Linked DNA regions of Homo sapiens: region 1 is linked to region 2. Evidence: fine-mapped expression QTL. Tissue or cell type: whole blood. Region 2 holds a variant in brackets; the other region holds the start of a gene. All regions are shown on one strand. Distances are between the middles of the regions.

Region 1 (8,333 bases), 54 kb before region 2:
GCTCTGGGTGCAGTGTGCAAGGCCCTTCATTATCTGTCATCTGCCCTCTCTCCAGACTCATTTCTTCCCACTTCTCCACATACTCACCTTGCTTCAGCTAAGCTGAACTTCTTGTGGCAGCTGGAACATGCCAAAGTGGTTTCCACTGGCTTAGCCCCTTTTCATGCACTGTTTATCCGAGTTTGGGTGATCAGATACACCCTACCCCATCACCTGACAATCTCTGACTTACTAATGGTGATAACGATGAAGGAGAGAAAGGAGAAAAAAATGAAATAATAAAGATGATAGATAACTATTGTAACAGACTGTTGAATAGAACAACTCTTCCTTTGCCTAAAAAATGGCACTAGGATCTACAACCCAAAACTATAGGTTCTGCGTGTCCCCACATTCTAAAGCAGAGCCACCAAAAATTGGACCAGGGCCAGGTGTGGTGGCTCATGCCTATAATCCCAGCACTTTGGGGGGCCAAGGCAGGAGGATTACTTGACATCAGGAGTTGGAGACCAGCCTGAGCAATATAATGAGACTCTGTCTCTACAAAAGCAAAGAAAAATTATTAATAGTCAGGTATGGTGGTATGCACCTGTAATCTCAGTTATTTAGGAGGCTGAATAGGGGGATCGCTTGGGCCCAGGAATTTGAGGCTGCAGTGAGCTATGATTGTACCACTGCACTCTAGCCTAGGTGACAGAGCAAGACCTTGTCTCAAAAAAAAAAAAAATTGAACCAGAATGCTCCTCAATGCTACATGTCCCTGCCACAAGCACCACAAGCCCCACACACCATCCCCCCACCCCCCCACACACACAGGCACATATAAACAGGTTTGGGGTGAGAGCTTACTGGAGAAAGCAGGTTTCTCCTCCCCTTAATCACCGCCCCACCCCCAACTCCTAAGAAGACAAGGATAACGGAGCCAAGAGGTCTGTGATGTTTGCAAGAAAAAGAGACAAGCATTCCGTTGTCCAATTAGATGTCTCCTGAATAGGCAGGCTGGCTTCTGGCCCTGTACTGGCTGGACATAGAGGGACTTCACAGGGGCAGGCTGCACAGCACCACGGGTTTCCCACAGATATCAAGAAACTTGCCAGACTGAGTAGTCTTAGAGATACTCCACCAAGAAGGGTGCTCGCCAGGTACAAGGACCCATCGGCAAAGGGTTTGGGAGTGTCCTGTGGGCTGGGGGAATATTGAGCTGAAGTAGTGTAGAAGGGAGGGGGACATATATCTCTTGCATCATTACCCTTCAGCCAAAGATCACAGGAATGCACCTGTAGTTGAATAAGTTGAGTTTATCACTCATTGTAGCAAGGGAGGATAGACACCATATGGAACTATGGGGGTCTCAGTAAGGGGGTGTTAGAAAGAGCCTATTATAGGATTTGGACTTTGGTTGAGTAATTTAGGGGAAGGTCTAAGGAAGCAGGAGGTTGCTATGGATGGGGTGCTCTCAGAAAGCAGGAATGATTCTTTTTAAACATTAAAAAAATTTTAATTCACAAAAAATTGTGTATATTTACAGTGTACATGATGTTTTTATATATGTATGTATTGTGGAATGACTAGATTAAGCTAAGTAACATATTCTTTACCTCACATACTTATCATTTTTGAGGCAAGAACATTTAAAATGTACTCTCTGTCAGGCGTGATGGCTCACACCTGTAATTCCAGCACTCTGGGAAGGCTGAGGCAGGCGGATCACGAGGTCAAGAGTTCGAGACCAGCCTGACCAACATGATGAAACCCAGTCTTTCCTAAAAATACAAAAATTAGCTGAGCGGGGTAGTATGTGCCTGTAATCCCAGCTACTCAGGAGGCTGAGGCAGGAGAATGGCTTGAACCCGGGAGGTGGAGGTTGCAGTGAGCCAAGATTGCGCCACTGCACTCCAGCCTGGGCAACAGAGCGAGACACCGTCTCAAAAAAAAAGAAAGAAAAGAAAAGAAAAGAAAATTCAACACCACTTCATGATGAAAAACAATCAACAGAATAGAAAGGAATTTCCTCAACCTGGTAAGACTGTCTATGAAATGCCCACAGCTAACTTCATACTTAGTGGTGAAAAACTAACAACTTTCCCTCTAAGGTGAGGACTGGGACAAGGGTGTCCACTCACCTCTTCTATTCAACATTATACTGGAGGTTCTAACCAGGGCAATTAAGCAAGAAAAAGAAACAAAAGGCACCAATTAAACAGGAAGAAGTAAAAATATCTCCATCTCCACATCCAGCCTCTCCACCTCACTAAAACTGAAGCTGAACAGGTGACAATATATCTGTTATTGGAAGGGTGGAGTTGTCAACTTGCTCTTTAAAGGCTCCATTCACCTGCCTTTTTTCTAACATCTCTTCTTGTTTTCAGGTCCTCCAGCTCGACTGGCACTATCACAGAGCTCGGGTTCCCCTTTCAGTGACCAGAAACTTGCTTGTTTTCTTTGCTTGCTGGGCAGTGAGGAGGTTCCTCAAAGGGACTCCGCTGTAGCACATGCTTGCATTCTCACTGTTGGCTCTGATGCAGGACCTCCACACACTGTGGGTGACAGCTCTTAGTGTACAGCTGCTGCCACTGCCCACCCACATGCCCTACACACGCAAACACACACACACACACACACACACACACACACACACACACAGTTTGTAGAGCCTGAGGGCTTCTTCTGGCTGCGGAGATAAGCACCTTTATTGGCTGTCTTCCCTTCCTGCTTGCTCACCTGCCTGCCCCAACCCTCAATCTCTGTGTCCTGATGTGGCTTCTCAGGTGACCTACTTGCACTGGAATCCTTGTCTCAGAGAAAGCTTCTGGAGAATCTAAAACTATGACAGATCGTCATACTAGATCATGGAACCAATTTAGTGGCTCTTGACCAGTGAATTAATAAAAAGGAAATCAGGGCCGGGCATAGTGGCTCACACCTGTAATCCCAACACTTTCGGAGGCCGAGGCAGGTGGATCACTTGAGGTCAGGAGTTTGAGACCAGCCTGGGCAACATGGTGAAACCCTGTCTCTAGTAAAAATACAAAAATTAGCCGGGCATGTTGGTGCATGCCTGTAATACCAGCTACTCGGGAGGCTGAGGCAGAAGGATTGTTTGAAGCTGGGAGGCAGAGGTTGCAGTGAGCCAAAATCTCACCACTGCACTCCAGACTAGGCGACACAGGGAGACTTCATCTCAAAAAAATAAAAAAAAGAAAAAGAAAGAAAAGAAAAGAAAGAAAGAAAGAAATTAAATACAATAGGAAATAGAGTGCACTCTGCATTTGTTTCCTTTTCAAGAAAACAAATGGGTCATGTAAACTGCATCTCTTAGGATGGAACAAAGACAAAAATATTTAGGGAAACTCTGCTGTAAAGATTTTTCATTGTTTTTTAAACAACTGTCAGGTCAACATATGACCTTTGAGGGGAAAAAAAATGCTCCACTTGTCTATAATACACTAAGGAGAGGCCAAAAAGCAGTGCTAGGTTTTTCTGGATTGGAGGATGTTTCCCCACTCTCCACCCCCCGATTTTGTGGTCATTTAATTTTCAAAAAATTTGCAATAATTATCCTTGTAAGAGTCTGTTGAGAATGAGTTCTTTACACTGCTAATGGGATTATGAACTGAACTGCTGGCTTTCAGTCAGCAACCCTGTAAATCCCTGGATTTATGCTAAGAAAAAAGAACACAAAAGAACCACAATGTGACATGCAGAATAATGCACGCTGCAATGTTACACATTCAGTTAAAAAGTGAAAGCAACTTCCATGTCTGCATTGGAGAGGCCAGTGTTCCTGGGAAGAGAGGCTTTCAAGTTGAGTTTGCAGAGCACTTCGCAGAAAGACTGAGGAAGAGTCCACCGTTTATATCAAAAACCTCCTGGAATGCTGGTGAAGACTGGGGGCGCTTTAGGTGCCTCCGTGGCAGCTCCAACGAGGAAGGAGCTGGGACCCCTGCTCCTCTCAGCTGCGCTCTGTTCTCCCGAGAGGCTTGCTGGAGGGCGAGCAGTTCAGCAAGAACTCAAAACAAGGGCACAGCTCTCACACGGATTCCAGTACTCACTGAAAACGGCTCAGCACAAAAAAAGCACAGAGTCTTGTTGAATGCCACTGGGAGACAAAGCGGGGAGGGAGGTGCAGGCAGTTAAGAGGTTCCAGAAAGGGAAGTGGTTGGCAACGGTTTGTCCTTTTAGTGCTTGACACCCAAGACCACAGCAGGCCTGTGGCCAGCGGGGACACAGTCCACAAGTGGGGGTTTTTAACAGCTTGTTCTTAAGAGAGCTTCCCAAACCACAGAGTAATGAGCACTCAGGTGTCTCAGGCCCACGGAGGATTTAATAGATGAAACCCTGGATCGTCTCGAAGCCGTGGTTGTTAAGAAGTTTAAATATATTGACCGGAAACGGGGAGAAACCAGAGGGTGGAAGAGCCGCTCGCACTGCGGTGCGATCCCTGAGGGCTCGGGGCAGGGGACTGGGGACCGAGCAGGAGCTGGCGGGGTGAGCTCTGCGAAGCGGGCGTGAGACCGAGCGCCCATGGGCCGGTCACGCCGGGTGCCCGCTCACCCCCCGACGCCAGCAGGAGCGCGCGCGCAGGCCCCGCGGGGCCGGGAGGGCGGCACGGGCGGGGCCCCCGTGCTCTCACCGCCCCGGGGTGTGGTTCCCGCGGACAGGCCGGGCGGGGCGGCGGGTTTAAGGCGCCGGCCGGCCCGACACGGCTCACTCGCGCCCTTGCCGCTGCCACCGCACCCCGCCATGGAGCGGCCGTCGCTGCGCGCCCTGCTCCTCGGCGCCGCTGGGCTGCTGCTCCTGCTCCTGCCCCTCTCCTCTTCCTCCTCTTCGGACACCTGCGGCCCCTGCGAGCCGGCCTCCTGCCCGCCCCTGCCCCCGCTGGGCTGCCTGCTGGGCGAGACCCGCGACGCGTGCGGCTGCTGCCCTATGTGCGCCCGCGGCGAGGGCGAGCCGTGCGGGGGTGGCGGCGCCGGCAGGGGGTACTGCGCGCCGGGCATGGAGTGCGTGAAGAGCCGCAAGAGGCGGAAGGGTAAAGCCGGGGCAGCAGCCGGCGGTCCGGGTGTAAGCGGCGTGTGCGTGTGCAAGAGCCGCTACCCGGTGTGCGGCAGCGACGGCACCACCTACCCGAGCGGCTGCCAGCTGCGCGCCGCCAGCCAGAGGGCCGAGAGCCGCGGGGAGAAGGCCATCACCCAGGTCAGCAAGGGCACCTGCGAGCAAGGTGGGCACGAGCGCTTCCCTCTCCAACCCTGCGCCGCTCGGCCCAGCGAAGGGCACATCCGACGGGGCGTCCGCGGCGGCCTCGCCCCGCGCTGCTCACTGCGATTCCCCCGCGGGCATCCCAGGAGCCAGATGGGAGGGAAAGAGTTGGCAGCCGCGGAATGCCAGGAGCGGTGGGCGACGCCCCCCCTTCTCCTTTTTGGTGGTTTTATTTTGAGAGTTTGCTGCGTGCGTCCAGAAAGTGAGGGCCGGGTGTATATGTAGAAAAGATTTTCCGAGACCTCAGACTTCCCCATGCCCAAAGCGCACCCAACTCGTGCTAACATCTGTCCATTTCTCATCATTCTTGGCTTGGGGATGTAGAGAGAGGTGAAGTCAAGAGATGGGGGAAAGGAGTTTGACAATTAAATATAAAGTAAGGACTTCCAGACAGACTTTTTTTTTTAAAAGATAGGATCTTGCTCTGTCGCCCAGGGTGGAGGGCAGTGGCACGATCTTGGCCCACTGCAACCTCTGCCTCAAGCGATCCTCCTGCCTCAGCCTCCCAAGTAGCTGGGACTATAAGCCTGTGCCACCACGCCTGGCCAATTTTTGGTTTTTTGTTTTGTTTTGTTTTGTTTTATAGCGACGGAGTTTCACTATGTTGCCTAGGCTGGTCTCGAACTCCTGAGCTCAAGTAATCCCGGCCTGCTGGGATTACAGGCATAAACCACCGTGCACAGCCCTGATTTCTTAGTATTGAAGAAAATAGTCCACTTTCTAAAAATTATAGGTTCTCAAACAGTAATCTAACTAGCTAATTATTTGTGGGCAAAAATAAAATACAAACTCTTTGAAGACTGTTTTTGTGATGCACTTTGTTGTCAACCTTCTGACCATTTTGTTTTTCCTTCCTATTTCTTTGATTTGTATTGTTTTGCATAATTTGTCCCCAGGATACACTGTTCAGCAGAAATGTCTTTGAGATTATGTTTGATTGTTTATTTTATTCCAAACAAGTCCAAGCTTGCTGTAAATGAAATAAGGAAATAGGCCGGGTGGGTTGGCTCACGTCTGTAATCCCAGCACTTTGGGAGGCCAAGATGGGCAGATCACGAGGTCAGGAGTTCGAGATCAGCCTGACCAACACGGTGAAACCCCATCTCTAATAAAAAATATATATATATACATTAGCTGGGCATGGTGGTGCATGCCTGTAATCACAGCTACTCAGGAGGCTGAGGCAGGAGAATCGCTTGAATCTGGGAGGCGGAGGTTGCAGTGAGCCGAGATCACATGACAGCACTCCAGCCTGGGTGACAGACAGAGACCCCATCTCAAAAAAAAAAGAAAGAAAGAAGAAAATAAAGTCTGGACTTGCAAATACACGCACATACACACACACATAGAAATTTTAACTCTAATGCCTGAAATAACATTTTCCATTGGCAGTATTTTCAAGGGAAAGTCAGACATTCAATGTTGGCAGCTCCTGATCTTAGCCAAGGTAGAAAAGGGAGAGGAGGCAGTTCTGAGGTTACAGAAGCTGTTGCTTCTTTAACACAGTTCAGACTTTCTCCAGAATTTCCAAATTCTTTCTTTAGAGCTTTTCCCAGAAGTCCACAAACTAATAGGTTGTATGTCATCAATTTCAGAGTTCACTATTGAAAGCCTTAAATTGTGTAACTCACTAGTAACTATTTATAGTATCATCACCTTAAACTTAGAAAATTGCAACCCAAAATAATCTGCATATGTTTACAATAGAAACAGTTATTTGTTACTTTGGATCTCATTTGTCGGTCACATCATGAAAAGATAAATGTGCGTTATTTAAGAATTTATTCCAAATATTGAGATTTTCTTATAAACATTACAATGGGGAACTTTATAGTTTTTTCAAAATGGCAGATACTTGCCTTATCAGAGCAGAAGGTTAGCTTGGTGATTGTTCAAGTGTTGTCAATTTCTAGTTTATACTTAATATTCCTTTTTCTCACCTGCTACTTACATCACCAAACACTCACACAGTCTGATTATAAAATATTGAGACTGACAGTCATATAGAACCAGTTTCATAACCTCATTACCATGTACACCCAGCTCAGTACCTCTCCAGACTGCAAACCCTTTGAGGGTTCCGGCCCGGCTTTTCTTTATATTTGGGGAAATGTTAGAGAAAACAGCATCTAAAACTGGAAACCTTGACTTAAATTAGCCATTTCTTCTCATCCTAAATTGAGAGAGATGAGTTCTAAATGGCAGAGACCATTTATAGGAGAATGCCAAAGAGAGCAGAAGAGAATGGGAAGCCTTTCCCACAGCAGAAACTTTCCACAGCAGAGACAATAGACTGATCCCTATCACATCCCCTAAATATTTCTTCTGACACCTGGATGGGTTTTGACAATCATAGAAGCAAACTGGACAGAGTGCCATTTACTTCTGTGCCATTTCATACTGGGGCTTTGCACAGAATAGGAAATGCATTGTCTAGGTTCCTCTAGACCTCTAGGTTCCCTTCTATTCTCAGAAGAAACTTAAGTTATGCTTGAGTATAACTTGAGTAGGGGCCAGGTAGGGGCAGCATTGTGGGATTCAGCCACAATGGTGTGATTCAATCTGCCCTCTGGTCTTTGGTTCCATTTAACATGCATTTATTGAGCAGCTAACTTGAGTCAGCACTGTACTAGGTGCTATATACCAGGGATGTACAAAACAGATTTGATGTTGCTGATTAAGAAAGTATCTGTACAAGTTACAAACTCACCTCCCAGAGCACTTGCCCTGGAGCCCTGGAGCTTGCCCCAGTCTTCCTCCTTTCTAAGATCACCACTTACCCAACTGGGAAGAGATCTTGGTCTGCTTGTTTTCCATACCTCTCTGGTAGGAGGCAAAGCGATCTGCTTGAAAATATGTCTGAAAGATAATCAGCAAATAATTTCAAATCTTGGAACTGTCATTATGAATTTACTGCCATTAGATTGTATTGAGGTCCCTGAAGTCATGGATAACCAGAAGGGGGAATTTGAAGATTCCATTTAATAAAAAGAAGTTGATACAAAGAAGCTAAGATATATAATAAAATTTCATAGTTGGAAGAGAACATGATGCTTCTGTATTCCAATTACTGATTA
Region 2 (8,333 bases):
GTCAGATTGACTGTCATGGTATCACAGTGCTTGTGTTCCAAGAAACCCTTATTTTACTTAATAATGGCCCCAAAGCGCAAGAATAATAAATTTGGTTTATTGTTATAGTTGTTCTATTTTACTATTAGTTGCTGTTGTTAATCTCTTACCGTGCCTAATTTACAAAACAGATTTTATCAGAGGTATGTATATATAGGAAAATATTGGAAAAAACATAGTATTAATATATACTATTAATATATACTGTATAAAGTTCGGTACTATCCACAGTTTCAGGCATCCACTGGGGGTTTTAGAAAGTATCCCCTGAAGGGATAAGGGTGGACTATTGTATTTTTATTTTTCCTGCAAACGACACACAGTTTTCCCACATCTTGAACATACTGATCCCCTTGCCTGAAAGCCCATTTCCTCTTTCATGAATTTAGTTCTGACCTACTCAGTAAGAATTTTTTTTGTTTTTCAGAGACGAAATCTCGCTGTTGCCCCAGGCTGCAATCCAGTGGCTATTCACAGGCACAATCACAGGCACTACAGCCTCAAACTCCTGGGTTTAAGCAATCCTCCTGCCTCAGCCTCTCGAGTAGCTGGGACTACAGGAAAAAAAACTTTTTTGCCCCGTCACTCAGGCTGGAGAGCAGTGGCGCAATCATAGCTCACTGTAGCCTTGACCTCCCAGGGTCAAGCAATCCTCCTGCCTCAGCCTCTTGAGTAGCTGGGACTACAGGTGCACACCACCACGCCTGGCTAATTTATATTTTATTTTTTAGAGATGAGGTCTCACTATATTGCCCAGGCTCCCAGGCTGGTGTCAAACTCCTGGGCTCAAGTGATCCTCCCACCTCAGCCTCCCAAAGTGCTGGTGTAGCAGGCTGGATCTCCATAAACCCTTTGCTGTAATGAGGAATGTATAAGTTAAACATTAAAGCAGAAGTAGAAAACAATGGATAACGAACTGGGGTAACTGGTGCCTGAGTAAGAAAGCTCGAATGCAAAAACAAACCTATTAAAACCTTACCTGGACTTCCTCAACCTCAAACCTGATTGAGGGATCAAAGCGTGCACCAAGACCCACTTAAGAAACTTTCCTACCCACAGACCCATAGTTAAAATTAGATTAAGAAACACTCCCACAAGTAGACATAGAGCTTGAATTGTGTATATAAGCTAAAGGAAAACTTGTAACTTTGAGTTGATCTGGTGAGTTACTCTGACCTTCTTCCTGTAACTGGTTGCAAAAATAAACTCCCTCCTTTCCCAGTCTGTCTGCATCTTGTTATTGGACTCGAGAACAAGCAGCCAGACCTCATTTGTCTGGGAACTCTGGGATTACAGCCCAGGAGATTATTTTTTATATTTGTATTTCTATCGTAGGACCAGTTGCACTTCGCCTGTTTTATAATTGCATGTATAGTTGTCTTCACTTCCTGATTGTAAATCCCTATGGGACAGGAGTCCAACCCTAACATCTTTCTATTCCTCATGTGACCCAGCACATCACTTAGTTCATGATGGACTGGGACAAATTAATCCATTCCATGTTTTCACCTGCTTAATGCTATACAATGCTGAAATGTGATTTAGTTAGTTATTATTGTAGTCCTTTCTCACCTTTTAAACCATTTTCCATAGGAATTTCCCCTTAAGGAATTAATTCAACGAAGCAGTAGTACAAGTTAGTGCTCTAGATATAGGGATAGATATTAAAGTTGATGATGATTAGATGACATTTTTCTTTTTTTTGTTTTAAATATTCTTTTTTAAAAAAAGTTTATTTTAGGTTTGGGGGTACATGTGCAGGTTTGTTACATAGGTAAACTCGTGTCATGGAGGTTTGTTGTACAGCATATTTTATCACCCAGGTGTTAGGCCTAGTACCCAATAGTTGCCCTTTCTGCTCCTCTCCCTTCTCCCACCCTCCACCCTCAAGTAGACCCAGTGTCTGTTGTTCCCCTCTTTGCGTTCATGAGTTCTCATCATTTAGTTCCCGCTTGTAAGTGAGAACATGTGGTATTTGGTTTTCTGTTCCTGTGTTAGTTTGCTGAGGATAATGGCCTCCAACTCCCTCCGTGTTCCTGCAAAAGACATGATCTCATTCTTTTTTATGGCTGCATAGTATTCCATGGTGTATATGTACCACATTTTCTTTATTCGATCTGTCATTGATGGGCATTTACGTTGATCCCATGTCTTTGCTATGGTGAATAGTGCTGCAATGAACATTCCTGTTCATGTGTCTTTATGGTAGAATGATTTATGTCCCTCTGGGTATATATCCAGCAATAGAATTGCTGCATCAAATGGTAGTTCTGTTTTTAGCTCTTTGAGGAGTCGCCATACTGCTTTCCACAATGGTTGAGCTAATTTACACCCCTACCAACAGAGTATAAGTGTTCCCTTTTCTCCGCAACCTTGCCAGCATCTGTTGTTTTTTGACTATTTAATAATAGCAATTCTGACTGGTGTAAGATGGTATCTCATTGTGGTTTTGATCTGCATTTCTCTAATGATCAGTGATGTTGAGCTTTTTTTCATATGCTTATTGGCCACATGTGTGTCTTCTTTAGAAAAGTGTCCATTCATGTCCTTTGCCCACTTTTTAATGGGGTTGGTTTTTTCTTGTAAATTTGTTTAAGTTCCTTACAGATGCTGGATATTAGACCTTTGTCAGATGCATAGTTTGCAAATATTTTCTCCTATTCTGTAGGTTGTCTGTATACCCTGTTGATAGTTTCTTTTGCTGTGCAGAAGCTCTTAAGTTTAATTAGGTCCCATTTGTCAATTTTTGCTTCTGTTGCAATTGCTTTTGGTGTCTTTGTCATGAAATATTTACCTGTTCCTATGTCCAGAATGGTATTGCCTAGGTTGTCTTCCAGGGCTTTTATAGTTTGGGGTTTTACATTTACATCTTTAATCCATCTTGAGTTAATTTTTTCATATGGTGTAAGGAAGGGGTTCAGCCTCAATCTTCTGCATATTGCTAGCCAGTTATCCCAGCACCATTTATTGAATAGGGAGTCTTTTCCCCATTGCTTGTTTTTGTTAGCTTTGTTGAAGATCAGATGGTTGTAGGCGTGCAGGCTTATTTCTGGGCTCTCTATTCCATTGATCTAGATGTTTGTTTTTGTACCAGTACCATGCTGTTTTGGTTACTGTAGCCCTAATAGTATAGTCTGAAGTCAAGTAACGTGATGCCTCTGACATTTTTTTATGTTCCCTAATTATTAGGAATTGAACTTCTGTCCAGCCTGATTTAACATATGATGATCAGTATGTTCCAGAAAGATCTGTTCTTTAATCATCTTCTGAGCACATTACAAGCCATTGAGGAAAGCTAGCTAGTGCTAACCTTATGAAATATTTATGGAATTATTATTCCTTATTTTTTTGTAAGTTAAAATGCTCCTTGCTGATTAAAAAAAATTACCCACGACTTTTTTGTGAATGGGATTAATCTTCTCTCTCTCTGTTCCACAGACCATGACTCCCTGTTCTCCACAGAGGCCAAGCTCCCATGGATATGGGGTGGAAATTTGGAGACAGGTCAAAGTCATATGTATCCCAAGAGTCTTGTTCTTATTTTCTCTATTTGAGTTTACTTTGAGCTTTCTTCTCTTCAAGTGTCAGTTCAGCTGATGTACTGGCTCAGACCATAACCCTTTCCCAAGGACTAGGTAAACCTGGATTACTTTCTACCTCTTCCCCTTTGTTGACAAGCAGCTGGTGTTTGTGAAAAAGCATTGTCTTAGTGCTTGAAGTCTGCTGCCTTAGCCAAGTTCAGAGATCCATTCATTATCTTTGAAGTGCCCAGCTTCCTAAAAGGGTCACACATGTTGTTAAAGAGACTCCCTGAGAACATACCCAAAAAGCAAGGATGAGGGAGGCATAAACAGCAGCTCCAAGGCCAATTTCGGGAGTACTGAGAACATTTTCTTCCTCGTGCCTCTAAAGAATGAGTTTCCTACTTTTATGTATGGTTGCTCTGAAGAGGCGCCAAATCTGAAATCCCCTGTTTTATGAGGAAATTATTTTCATTTACATAAACAAAAGAATAAAATCTCCAAGGCCAGAACTGATGGTTGCTCTAGAAGAAATGCCTTTGGAAGTTCTACAATAAGCCCCAGGTTCACGTGACCGTTAGGATACTTTGCATGTAGTTTCTCCCAGTC[C/T]TTGTAAAGGCATAATGTCCTCACCTTTAAAACCCAATCTACGGATGGGTGCACTGGCTCACACATGTAATCCCAACGCTTTGGGAGGCCAAGGCAGGGGGATCACTTGAGCCCAGGAGTTCGAGACCAGCCTGGGCAACACAGGGAGACCCTGTCTCTACAAAACAAATTTTAAAAACTTAGCCAGGGATGGTGGTATGTGCCTGTAGTCCCAGCTACTTGGAAGGCTGAGTTGGGAGGATCTCTTGAGCCCTAAAGGACGAAGCTGCAGTGAGCCATGATCGTGCTACTATACTCCATCCTGGATAACAGAGTGAGAGCCTGTCTCAAAAAAAGAAAAAAAAATCTACTATAGAAATCATGAAAAACTCCTTTCTGTGTCTCCCTGCACTGTTAGGGAACTAATAATTCAAGTGAAATAAAAAACAAAACTCAAAAAAAGAAAGCACCATTAATTAAAGAAAAATAATCACTGCCTAAAATTAGCCAAAGTGCCAATGCAGAGATTTCTGATGTGAAAAATGCCAATAAGAGCAGAAAAGAGTATTTCCATGCCACTGCAATCTCCTTCTGTGAGGTAACATGTCCCACGTGCATTGGCATAGCTTTGCTTCACCTTGTTCCCATTTCTCACAGCTCACACCCAGCCAGATGGACTCCTCTGTCCCCCAGCCTGATAAAAGCAAGGGTGACTTGCCTTGCTAAATGGTAAATTCCTTATGCAAAGCCTTCCAGTTCTCACCAGGCAGGTCCTCCTCTCCTGTGATCAGAGAGACATCCCCATTTCCCTGATTTCAGAGCAGTGCTATTTGGCACTTTTGAGCCTCACTTGAACAGTCTGGCTGTTCCTGGCCCAGACTGTTTACTGCACCCACATCTAGCACCTTCTCAATTCCTCTTAGCACTCAGAAAAATTGTCTTGTAGCTGAACTCAAACACACAGTAATACTTATCCTAAGTACCCAAGACACACACACGAGAAGAACTAGCCCTACACTAGCGTAAGAGGAGCATTCTATTCCAGGTTCAGCCTTAGGGACGACACTAGAGAAAATACCAAAAATGGGAGAAGAAACACGAAATCCTGCTAGGAAGCTGAGAGAAAATCTGAGAACACTCAGCAAAGAATGCATGAGCAAAGGATGGGATAGATAACAGACAGCTTTTCAGTCTCTAGACATCACAAAACGGCTCAGAAAATGACCAGAGGGGCCAAGCTGGAGAAGAGGAAAACACTGAGAAAGAGCAGGAGGAGCTCAGTTATGCGCGGCTGGCTAACGTCTGGGGTTGTCTGCCAGGGAGTCACGGTGGCTGGGCTGTGACAATGGGAGTCCGGGGCCTGGAGGGTAAAAACATACGCAAGTACAAACGCCAGACGCCCGCCAAGCAGCCATCACGCCCTGCGCTCTGCTCCATGGAAGTCTGAAGGGGGCTATTCGCACACAGAGATCCCTTTATTCAACCTCCTCCTTGCCCGCTTAAAGCCAAACCGAATGTCTTAACAGAGAGGCAATCGGACCAGAAATGAGCAAAGGGCGGCTCCCAAGTTCGAGGGATTTTAGATAAGACCCATGCACTCCAGACACAGAGCCCCATCTCCATACAGAACAGTCAAGGGCAGGAATGAGGAGGGCAGAAGAGGGACAGGGTGCAGGTGGGAGATGACTGCCCTATTTTATGAAAATGGAAAGCAGTCCAGGAGAACCGCGATGACCCTGTCCACCCCCGCGTGATTGAAGTGGTGGCGGTGCTGGTGTTATCAGGTGTCTGTACCCTTCACCCAGAACCAGCCCACTGGATTTTCTCAATTCTCCGTGAATACTGGCACCTCCCAAGTAGTACTTGGCCTCTCACTCCCCAAAAAGACCTACGAACATAATTTCTTCTAATCTGTCCCCCTCTCCTCCTTTCTAACTTTCCACCTTCCTGTCTTCCTAATCATCTGAGTATCTCCTACTCAAAAACAATGTTTTAATTGAGTACTTCTACCTAGGGAGTTTTTTTTAAGATACCTGTACCAGACTCCACGCCCAGACCAGTGAGAAACTAGGAGTGCAGCCCAGGAATGGGCATTTTTTTCGACACACCCAGATGAGTCCAGTGTGCAGCCAGGATTGGCAACCACTGGATAAGATCCTGCAGGACAGAATCCTTCCTAGAGGCCAGTACCCGGTGGCTGAGGCTCTGCGTGTCTGCTGCCTATTTCTGCAGATGCCCCGCTATGAAATCTTTTCCAACCTGCATAGCCTTCTGGAGACTGAATAAACCTCTGCTTGGTAGCTCCTGGTCTAAGAGGGTCACCCTATACTGCACTGTCGGACCCCACAGGCACTTTCCAGTGCCGTCAGCCTCGCCTGAAGGATTTGCTGGGATTTCTAAAGTGTGAATCTTTTCCTTGGGCAGAGTGGTGCTAAACACGTGTCTGGTTCTCAGGGAGCTGAAGAACTTTAGTCTTCTACTGAAGACCCAAGGTGTTAAGTCTCCTGGTCCTCCTTGGTTGTCCGAGTGTACAGGGAACAGCAGAACTGGCCCCATTGTAGCATCCTCCCAGGGAGTTCAGGCCTTGGCCTTCAGCGTCGCAAAATGTTTTCAGGAGGAGGTTTAGCAAGTCCAGCTCTCCTGAAGTAGAAGATCACTTGGGAATCTCTTACATCCTCTTCCCCAGGGGCACATCTATTTCTTCTTCTTTTTTTTTTTTTTTTTTTTTTTTTTGTGAGAGAGAGCCTCGCTCTGTCGCCAGGCTGGAGTGCCGTGGTGTGATCTTGGTGCACTGCAACCTCCGCCTCCCAGGTTCAAACAATTCTTCTGCCTCAGCCTTCCAAGTAGCTGGGACTACAGGCACGTGCTACCAAAATTAGCCTGACTAATTTTTTGTATTTTTAGTAGAGACGGGTTTTCACCATGTTAGCCAGGATGGTCTCGATCTCCTGACCTCGTGATCTGCCCACCTTGGCCTCCCAAAGTGCTGGGATTACGGGCATGAGCCACCCCGTGCCCAGCCAAGCACATCTATTTCTAAGCAGATTGCTTAGAATTCTTGTTAGTCAGCGCAGGGCCTACGGATAGAGACTAAGCTTTAAAGATGGGTGAGCCTCCCTTACAGGTAGTTCAAGAAACCCTTCCTGATGTCTGAGGATACCAGGCACTGGGTTAGTATGTAGGGGCCTGAGAGTGGGCAGGGACTCCAAGATGAAGTGTCCTAGCCAGGCTTGGTGGTTGCTCACCTGTAGTCTCAGCCACTCAGGAGGCTGAGGCAGGAGGATGGCTTGAGCTTGGACTCCTGGGAGTCCAAGACCAACCTGGGCAATGTAACAAGATCTCATCCCAAGAAAAGAAGGAGAAATTTCCTAGGGAAACTCACTATCTAGGCTTCTAGGAATCCCAGAATCAGGTGTGACCATCCACGTGGTTAGCAATAAGTTTCCTATGGGAACTTCCCACCCAATTCAGTGCTTGCAGAATAAGAAAGCGCTAGCAAAAACATTTAATATCTTGTATTTAAGGTGAGTCATAGTCCAGACAGGACAGGCCCATGAGATGTGGAAAAAATGTGTTTCCAAGGCTATGTTAACATCACTAGGGAGTTTCGTCTCGGGAAAGCACTCTCTATAAAGTCAGTTCTTCCAGGTCCTCAAACCAATTCAAAACCTAGCCTGCTGATTCAACTTGTGTGGACCTCAGCCAGTCTGGTATTAGGATGATAGTGTAGGTATTCCAGCTTCCTAGGGGAGCTCTGCTGAATACGTTAGCTCATCCCTGGGCAATGTTGTTGGCACAGCCCCATGTTACCTCATCTATCACATGGTTACCAGAGCGAGCTCACCATCTTGCACACCTGAACATGGTTTCAAGTCCTTCATGGATTTGCTTCATGGCAGTAGCAGGGTCCCTTCAAGAATGACACCAGACCACATGTACCAGAACCACCATGGGCAAGAACCACACCCTGGAGTCAGACTCTTTGTCAGTACCCCACTTTTTTTTAATGCTAGACCCATACAAGGAAGGGGACAAGAATAAGAAAACATCATCAAGGGCCAGGTGCGGTGGCTCACGCCTATAATCCCAGCACCCTGGGAGCCCGAAGCGGGCAGATCACCTGAGGTCAGGAGTTCGAGATCAGCCTGATCAACATGGTGAAACTCCATCACTGCTAAAATTACA

The links.
Region 1: it holds the start of IGFBP7, and the variant in region 2 is fine-mapped to the expression of IGFBP7 in whole blood (INTERVAL, PIP above 0.99).

What each region holds. Positions count from the first base shown.
Region 1 is chr4:57,106,762-57,115,094 of GRCh38, reverse strand. IGFBP7 (insulin like growth factor binding protein 7) reads left to right here and starts at 4,710. Exons shown (of 5, transcript NM_001553.3): 1 at 4,710-5,218. The coding sequence starts at 4,744. It overlaps IGFBP7-AS1 (IGFBP7 antisense RNA 1), which reads right to left and starts at 5,333. Exons shown (of 5, transcript NR_034081.1): 1 at 5,125-5,333. RefSeq lists a silencer at 4,572-4,641.
Region 2 is chr4:57,053,188-57,061,520 of GRCh38, reverse strand. The region is part of intron 1 of IGFBP7 (insulin like growth factor binding protein 7); the gene reads left to right. Among named protein-coding and RNA genes, the nearest start is that of IGFBP7-AS1, 52 kb to the left of the region's middle. The variant C/T (reference allele first, on the strand shown) is at 4,170.